Linked DNA regions of Homo sapiens. The protein of the gene in region 1 interacts with the protein of each later gene in a pairwise test. Each region holds a gene or a part of one and is shown in the gene's direction. Other genes may lie near its edges.

What was found. The genes of interacting proteins can lie anywhere in the genome.
Region 2: the proteins of SSX2 (region 1) and ZBED1 interact in a two-hybrid assay, tested with the Homo sapiens proteins (one large-scale study listed by BioGRID).

What each region holds. Positions count from the first base shown.
Region 1 is NC_000023.11:52,703,312-52,709,279, reverse strand, and holds the start of SSX2 (protein SSX2), read left to right. Parts: upstream 1-2,101; 5' UTR 2,102-2,168; intron 2,169-3,510; 5' UTR 3,511-3,530; coding exon 3,531-3,599; intron 3,600-4,037; coding exon 4,038-4,152; intron 4,153-4,687; coding exon 4,688-4,783; intron 4,784-5,968.
Region 2 is NC_000023.11:2,484,897-2,488,488, reverse strand, and holds the end of ZBED1 (E3 SUMO-protein ligase ZBED1), read left to right. Parts: 3' UTR 1-2,054; downstream 2,055-3,592.

The sequences.
Region 1 (5,968 bases):
TTGCCACCGTATGTGGACCCATGTTCCCCTGGCTTAATGGTCAGCATTATGCCATCGTCCCACAGCACTGCAGACACAGAGTATCAACCTCCAGAAAGGGCCTTTCCAAGGAGGACTATATCAGGACTGACATTTTCATGATCAACAGCCAGCCATCTACCAGTTCTGGCCAATCCTATCTGTATTTCATCAACAATGAACAGAACCAAGCTGGGAGCATGAGATGGGACGAGGGCAAGTAAAAATACCACAAAGCTCACTGTTCTTACGGAGATTCAGCTGGTCTCTCTCTCGCTCTTTCTTTCTTTCTTTCTTTCTTTTTCAGTCTTGCTCTGTCGCCCAAGCTGGAGTGCAGTGGTGTGATCTCAGCTCAATGCAACCTCCACTTCCCGGGTTCAAATCATTGAGTGAGCCCAGGAGGTCAAGACCAACCTGGGAAACATAGCAAAAGGCAGGGTGGTGCATGCCTGTAGTCCCAAGGCCGAGGCGGGAGAATCACTTGAGTCCCAGAGGTAGAGCCCAGCCTGGACAACATAGCGAAACTGTCTCTAATAGAAAAATTAAAAATATTAGTGGGGGCGGGGTGGTGTGAGCCCATAGTCCCGAGGCCGAGGCGGGAGGATTGCTTGAGCCTAGGAGGTCGAGGCCAGCCTGGCCAACATAGCGAAACCCCATTTCTGCTAACAACAAGAACAACAGAAAAATAGCGTGGGCGGGGTGGCTCACTCCTGTAGTTTTGAGGCCAAGGTGGGAGCATTGCTTGAGCCCAGGAGTTTGATACCAGCCTGGCCAACAAAGCGAAAGCCTGCCTCTCCTAAAAAATAAATAAATAAATAAATAAATAAAAATGAGCGGGGTAGAATGGCACACGCCTATAGTTCTGAGGCCGAGGTGGAAGCATCATCTGAGCCTGAGAGGTTGAGGCCAGCCTGGGCAACATATCGAAACCCGGTTTCCACTAAAACGAAACAAAACAAAACAAAAAATAGCTTGGGCAGGGTGGTGCATGGCTGTAGTCCTGAGATGGGAGGATCCCTTGAGTCCAGGAGCTTGATGCCGGCCTGGCCAACATAGGGAAACACGGTTTCTACTAAAAAAAAAAAAAAAAAAAAAAGCGTGGGCAGGGTGGTGCATGCCTGTCGTCTCGAGGCCATGGCGGAAGGATCCCTTGAGCCCAGGACGATGAGACCAGCCTGGCCAACATAGCAAAACCTGGTTTCTACTTAAAAAAAAAAAAAAAAAAAAGCGTGGGCTGGGTGGTGAATGCCTGTAGTCCCGAGGCCGAGGTGGGAGGATCGCTTGAGCCCACGACGTCAAGACCAGCCTGGCCAACACAGCGAAACCTTCTCTATTAAAAAATCAAAAAATAAAAAATATTAGTGGGGGTAGGGTGGTTCGCGCCTGTAGTCCCAAGACGGAGGCTGGAGGATTGGCCAAGGCAGATGTAACCAATACCACAATCACATCCCATAAGTAAATACATTTTCCTCTCTTCAGGGCTACAGGTAAAGGATGGTAATTGTGCGCACCATACTTAAGATTCCCTTTCAAAAATGTAAGCAGAGGTTGCGGGGCCTTGGACTGTTTTTTCAGTGGCAACAGACATAGAAGCCACTGAAGAATGAAAGCCACGACTAAGTATAGCAAACCTCCGCAAATGTGCTAGTTTGGAAAACATCGTGTCTTTCAAGTAGAAAAATCACAGATTGACTATTTTTTTCTTCCCACAGTTCAGACTAGAATCCAGATTTTTAACCCAAGATCCAGGAACGGTCTTCAGAGAGTTCAAAATCTGACGGCGCCTGAGGACCACCCACTTTTTCGCAGTGGCAACAAAGTGTGGCTGGAGGAGGAGACATTATTCTGCTATGTCACTGCCCAAGGATGATGGACCAATCAGGGCAGTTAGTGAACTCCATCTGGCCAATTAGAAGTCAGAACAGTAGGCGGAACAAGCGAAGCGGATGTGGCTTCTATCAGTCCCGGCTCCAGGGACGGAACCTTCTCAAAGTGGGGGTGGAGACTCTAATTTTCCCGCCTAAAGCATCCCCTGGGATTGGCTACTTTAAGTTCAGAGTACGCATGCTCTGACTTTCTCTCTCTTTCGATTCTTCCATACTCAGAGTACGCACGGTCTGATTTTCTCTTTGGATTCTTCCAAAATCAGAGTAAGCATACGCCGATTTTCTTTTTCCATTCTTCCTACCCCTCCCCTCCTCCGCGGTGCATTTGCTATCTAGTTTTAATAAGGAGTGTATATGAGGCAGGCCGCCATCTCGAATCTTTCCTGTCAGTTTCTAACTTTTTCAGGTACGGGATTTTTCCTAGGAACTCTGTAGTAACTTAAGAAATTTGGGCCGGGCGTGGTGGCTTACACTTGTAATCCCTGCACTTTTGGAAGCCACAGCTGGTGGATCGCCTGAACCTAAGAGGCGGAGGTTGCAGTGAGCCATGATCACGCCAGTGCACTCCCGACTGGGCAACAGAGCGAGACCCTGTCTGAAAAAACAAAAACCAAAAAAGCTCACTCAAATCTTTCCTCCTGGGCTCAAGTGAGCCTCTCGCCTAGGCCTTGGGGCTACAGGCGCGCACCACCCCGCTTCTGCTAAATTTTGTTTGTTTTTTTTAGTAGAGATGGTTTTGCTACGTTTGCGAGCCTGGTCTCAAGCTCCTGGGCTAAGGCGATCCGCCCACCTTGGCCTTCCAAAGTGCTGGGATGGTACAGGCCTGCTCCACCAACCCCAGCTAACTTTTTGTGTATTTTGTAGACGGGGGTTTTGCTGTGTTTCCCAGCCGGGTCTCGACCTCCTGGGCTCAAGCGGCCTGCACGCCTCGGCCTCCCAAAGTGCTGGGATTACAGGCGTGAGCCACGGCGCCTGGCTGATTGCTGCATCTTGAAATGCCCCACATTCTCTCTAAGTGATGGCGGGCTCTTGTAGTCTCAGAAATTCTAGCTCTCTTCCTTCTAATAATTTACAAATCACCGAGTAATAGCCTCTGAACACGTTCATATTAGCGATGCTCATTTCTCTTCAACAGAACAGAACCCCCCATCCCTCTGCCTGATCAGATCCATCGCCAAAGAGACCATGTTATCTCTGGGACTAACTTCCCTTCCTTTATTTATTGAGTGGGGGTGTCAGCATGCCCCCACTGAATAAAATTACACAGTCATGTCCCTGCCTCCCCAAAAAGGGTCCGTACATCTTTCAGGGTAAGCCTAGCTCCAGGGAAACTACTAACAACATTAGCCAACCCCCTCCCAAAGACTCAAGGCTGCTTTGCCCATAGGAAACCTGTCATTCCCTATCAATACTTCTCCCAGAGACCCCTGGTTCCCTGTTTTCATCTGATTTCTCCCCATATCCTTACTCAGGGACAGATAAGCCCCGGATGGAGAAATGCAGCAGCTGATTCCAGGTGACTGAGGGTGGCCGGCCTTCACTGACTTCTCCCTCCACAGGATCAAAGCTGCTGTGGCTGGAAAGACTCAGGCTATTTCTCTTGCAGGTCAGACTGCTCCCGGTGCCATGAACGGAGACGACGCCTTTGCAAGGAGACCCACGGTTGGTGCTCAAATACCAGAGAAGATCCAAAAGGTGAGGTGACCTGGAGGGAGCAGAGTAGTGGCCCAGGGGACAGTGTGGGGTGACCCGGTTTCTGAGGAGGGGAGGACAGAGATACTGGAGACAAGGAGCAGGGTCTCGGGGGAGATCTGGACCCTTGGGAGCCTCCCACCCTCGCTCTGTCATCACCTAGCATCCCTGGAGACAAGTCTGTGACCTTGCACTACATCTGGTGACTCTCAGTCCATTCTGGAAGGTGGGAAGAGAGCCAGCCAGCAGCATTAAAGCCCTACTGTGTGGCAGGGGTGAAGCTAGGGAAGGTCCCTCGTGTTCTGTCAGTTAGCCATGGCATCAACCAGGAAGGATTATCATCCCCAGTTCCCAGATCTAGCACACAGGAAGCGGCTCCAGCTGAATGGCAGACATGCCTAGCTGAGTCCCTGCCATAATTCCTTTTTTTTTTTTTTGTAGGCCTTCGATGATATTGCCAAATACTTCTCTAAGGAAGAGTGGGAAAAGATGAAAGCCTCGGAGAAAATCTTCTATGTGTATATGAAGAGAAAGTATGAGGCTATGACTAAACTAGGTAACAGAAAGTTCTGGGAACAGACAAGTCTGGGGACACATGAGCATCCCTTTTCCTGCTTTGGCTACTTCTTAGGCTGCAGAAAGTACCTCACATTTTCCTTTTGTGCAGGGAAAAATCGCAAGGCAGCTTCTGGGTGTTCTGCTCTTCTGTATCCTGTCAGGGCTGAGGGCAGGGACTGGCCACAGTGGAGCTTATACCTGGATCCTGCACGTTTCTCTCCCTTAGGCTTCTGTTCTGATGAGCCCAACTGTCTCTGTGGCATCCCGGCAACCCCCCTACCCCCACCCCACACACACCCACCCTACCTTCTCTCGGCTTGTCTCTTCCTTTTTTTTTTTTTTTTTTGAGTCAGTCTCAGTCTGTCACCTAGGCTAGAGGGCAGTAGTGCAATCATAGCTTACTGCAGCCTTGAATTCCTGGCCTCAAGCAATTCTCCAGCCTTAGCCTCCCAAAGTGTTGGTACTACAGACATGAGCCACCATACCAGGCCCAAGCTTGTCTCTTAAGGAATAAACATTTTGCTTCTTTCTAGGTTTCAAGGCCACCCTCCCACCTTTCATGTGTAATAAACGGGCCGAAGACTTCCAGGGGAATGATTTGGATAATGACCCTAACCGTGGGAATCAGGGTGAGTAGATGGGAAGGGGCTGGAAAGGGTCTCCTCAAGCCCAGCTGCTTTTCAGCTCAGCTACCTGAGAAAGATCCTCAGGCATTTGTTCCCTCATACACATCAGGGCTGAGTGAAAAAAAAAAAAAAAATTGCATGCAGAAAGTTAACTACAGAGGCCATTCATATAAAATTTTAAAACATGCAAAAGAAGAATATATATTTTATGGATAATAAGTAAATGGTAAATGTATACAAACATGAATGTGAATAAAAAGCCATCAAATTAAGGTGACTGGCTGTAAGTGGAGGAGGGAGGGAGGGCGGGCAGGGATTACTGAGTGCGGCACAGACAGCTTCAGCTGTGACTTGTTGATAGTGTGTTTTGTTTGTTTTTGTTTTTGAGATGGAGTTTCACTCTTCTCGGCCAGGGTAGAGTGCAATAAGGCAATCTCAGCTCACTCCAACTTTCACCTCCTGGGTTCAAGTGATTCTCCTGCCTCAGCCTCCCGAGTAGCTGGGGTTACAGGCACGTGCCCCCACACCCAGCTCATTTTTTAATTTATGGTAGAGACGGGGTTTCACCATGTTGGCCAGGCTGGTCTCAAACTTCCTGACCTCAGGTGATCCACCCGCCTCAGCCTTCCAAAGTGCTGGGATTACAACTGTGAGCTACCACGCCCGGCCTATTTGCAGTTTTTCTAATATTCTGAATAAATAAATCAGACCTAACATAGCTGTGGGGTAATGTTGAGATCCGACTGGACTCAATATTATTCCCCATACTTTTCTGTGTGTTTGAAATATTTCTTTTTTAAACGACATGTTGTTCTTCCTAAGCACCGTTAATGAATCAAAGGACTGCTAAAAAAATGCTACAAGTGAAAAAAAAAAAAGAAAGAAAGAAAGAAAGTGTTAAAACTGTAGATCCGCCAAAAACTTCCAGAGTTTGTTTCATTAACAGCATGTAGGTATTGGATAGGTATCTTAGGAGTGAGGGTGATGAACACATTATGTAATAAAGATCGCTGTTTCTCTGTATTGGTTTATCAAAACCAAATAGTCTTCTCATTCCCAAAGAACCCTGATTCTCCGTAATGAGCTTGGAAGAGAGTTTGAAGGAGTGATCCCTTATCCAACACACAGAGAGCTTTCCCACTTGTCAGAGAGCAGAGATAACATAGGGTGAAAAAAAGATAGGTTCTT
Region 2 (3,592 bases), about 50 Mb from region 1:
GAGAAGTGAGAGAGGGTCGGGGGCGGTGGCTCCTGTCTATAATCGCAGCACTTTGGGAGGCCGAGGTGGGCAGATCAGCTGAGGTCAGGAGATCGAGACCAGCCTGGCCAACATGGCGAAACCCCGTCTCTACTAAAAATACAAAAATTAGCCAGGACTGATGGCATGTGCCTGTAATCCCAGCTTCTGGAGGCTGAGGCCAGAGAATCGCTTGAACCTGGGAGGTGGAGGTTGCAGTAAGCTGAGATCGCTGCACTCCAGCCTGGGCGACAAGAGCGAGACTCTCTCAAAAAGAAAAAAGAAGACACAAGAGAGGTGGCTTTGAGTGGGTTTCCTTTCCTCCCCTATTCCCGGGGCCCGGACGACTTCTGCTTGGGAACTGCCAACGCTTCTGCTTGGGAATTGCGTGCAGCAGAGCCTAGAGGAGCTGTTCCTTCCTTCACAGATACTTAAGACCTCCACCATGTCTGATTCGAGTTCTCCCTGGGAGGGTTTAGAAGAAACGCAGGAACATTCTGGGTGGCGTCGAAGGAGCCTTTCCCGATCATCATGTGTGACTTCTGCGAGGTCCAGATCACTGAATTCATGTTTACATTCTCGTGCAAGCAGGGACCTCTTGCTTCTGAGAAATGGGGAAGAGACCTTTTAGCCAAAATGCCCTTCTTAAAAAGAGAGACCTTTTTTTTTAATGTTCGGTTAAAAATGTGACAGATGAGTACAAAAATGCAGACACTTAACAAAAAGCAAACAGAAAAAAAAGTGTGGAATGTGTTGTATTTTCGACAGGTTGCTGCCAGAGAGCCTGCTTCCTGCTGCCTGCCGAAATTTCACTTTGCGGAGTTGGTCCTTAAAACTGGGCGGTGGCCGGGCGTGGTGGCTCACGCTGAGGTCAGGAGTTCGAGACCAGCCTGGCCAACCAACATGGTGAAACCTCGTGTCTACTAAAAATACAAGAAACTAGCCAGATGCGGTGGCACCCGCCTGTAATCCCAGCTACTCGGGAGGCTGAGGCGGAAGATTCGCTTGAGCCCAGGAGGTGGAGGTTGCAGTGAGCCAAGACTACGCCACTGCACTCCAGCCTGGAGGCCAGAGTGAGACTCCGTCTCAAAACAAAACAAAAGTGGGTGGCTCACGGGTCCGGAGGTTATGTCTTCGGTGTCTCAGCCCTAAAAGTCCAGTTCCCCCGTGCGGCCAGCTTTTCCACATAAGGTGTTTTTGATTTGATTACCGGAAAGGACTCTTGATTCTTCTCTTTTAAACTGAATACCATAGGGGAAATGAATTTTAAAATATTGCCCCCGGAGGGGTTTTCCGTGGCTGGATTCCTGCGAGTTGCTTTCAGTCATTCAGGGAAACAGAAAGACGTTTTCCAACATGTAGAACTGCTTTTTAACTGGAGGAAAAATACTTCAGGAGGCTTAGCATATTGCTTGGATTCTACGTGCAGCGGGTTCTCTGCCTCCGTGAAGACAAGCTGGGCTGGGGAGAACGGTGTCTAGGAGGGATGACCCCACTCAGCTCCAGGCAGTGTTCTGCCGAGACCCCAAGAACTCGGGGTGTCAGAGGGCAAAGGAACTACCTGCCTTTCACGGCTGCTGACTTCTCAGGGCTGCAAGCAGCACAGAATGTTATCCTTACGTCCTGAGCCGGTTTAAGTCTGTGGAAAAGGAAGCACGGGAGAAATCCACGTAACCTTTGCTTTCTTTTTAAGGGAAGCGGTTCCGCCGTGAACTTGGAACCCTCAGCTCCGGGTGTTCTCGGCAGAAGGGCAGCTGGAAGGGACACAGTGGGGCAGGCTTTGGGGTTGCTCCCTGTTCTGCCCCGAGGCCGGGGACGCAGGGCAGCCCACGCCTCCGTGGGCTCCATTCTGTAGCATTGCCAGCGTTCTCTTCACGTCTCTAACAATCCTTCGCTTTTCCTCACTCACGTGGAAATGTGAACTGTCCCGGCTCTGTCTTCATTTTTATTTTTAAGCCATCGTTCCCCTCCTGAACGGTTGCCCCTTATTTAATGCTGTAAAGTTGGACTGTTGTTCAATAAACCAGAGCAATGCATTAGCTCCTCATTCATTTGTCTGCCGCGTGTCCGTCTGGACTGCAGTTTGTCTGAACCCCTTGATCCTGGGAGTGGAGGGAGGTTTATCATTATTATTATTTTTATTTTTGTTGTGGTCCTTGTTGAAAGCAACTTTTTCCAGGGCACCCACGGTCAGTTCTGTGCTCCTCTTTCTTGTCTGTAAATCCTCAAGTTATGATGTACTTTCGGGTGTTTTGGCATCAAAATTTCTGAGTGAATAAAGCCGGCAGCTGGTGAAAGTGTTCCCCGGGAGCAGAGATTTTTGCCGGTTCCTTCACTTAGTGGATAGTTGTATAAACGGAGGCCCCATGGACGAGGCAGCCTGGATGGATCCGGATGGCATCAGCGCCTTCCCTCTCCCCCCAGCCTCCTTATCACCCCTCTCTTCCTGTCTTCCTCACCTCCTCTCACATGGTCTCTTCCTTCCCTCCTCCTTCCGTCCAACCCTCCCTCTCTTCTTCAGCCAACAAATCCTTCCTTTCTTCCTTCTTTCCTTCCTTCCTTCCCTCCCATCCTTGTCTCTTCTTCTCTCCCTTCCTTCCCTCCCTTCCCTTCTTTCTTTCTCTCCCTTCCTTCCTTCTCTCCCTTCCTTCCTTCTCTCCCTTCCTTCCTTCTCTCCCTTCTCTCCCTTTTCTCCCTTCCTTCCTTCTCTCCCTTCCTTCCCTCCCTTCTCTCCCTTTTCTCCCTTCCTTCTCTCCGTTCCCTCCCTCCCCTCCCTCTCTGCCTCCCTTTCCTCCCCTCCCTCCTTCCCCCATCCCTCCCTCCCTCCTTCCCTCTCCTCCCTCCCTCCTTCCTTCCCTCTGTCCCTCCCTGTCTCCCTCCCTTCCTCCTTCCTTCCTTTCCTCCCTCCCTCTGTCCCTCCCTCCCTTTTCTCCCTCCCTCCCTTCCTCTTTCGTTTTCCTTCCATCCCTTTTTCCTTCCTCCCTCCCTCTTTTCCTCCCTCCTGAGAAAACAATGGCCCCCAAGAAACACAGGAAGGCCGGGATGTGCACCTCTGCCCAGACTTGCCCTTTCCAAGTGCTGTTGGTTGACTGCCTGTCCTTGGGCATCATTAAAATGCCGAAATTTCTCTTTCTTGCACGTTTTGGGTTGAAAGGGGTTCATTTTCAGTCCTCATAACTAAGCATTTGCATCGTGATGTTCATTTAAGTGGGACATGTTTACACGTTTTTCCCATTAGGAGTAATTCTAGTCCTTGAGGGTTTCTTACAGAGACATTTCCCTAACCCCGACGGTTCTCATCCCAGCCTGTGTGGCACTCCTTCCGCACAGTGGTGGGATTTTTCGGTTCGGTTTTGTTTTCACGCTTGCATCTGGCTGCACAGCCCTAACTCTGAGCTGGTTGTTTTTGTTTCCCCCCCACTTTGCAGAATTGCCTGCTTCGAACTGTTTTCCCAGCAGGCCTCTGAAGGGTGAGGAAAACAGCTTGGGGAAAGTGAGAAAAAGGTTTCGGATGTTTTAGTAAAGAGGCAGCTGGTGGGAAGGAGCCGGTTGGGCTGTTTCTGGGGTGCCGAAA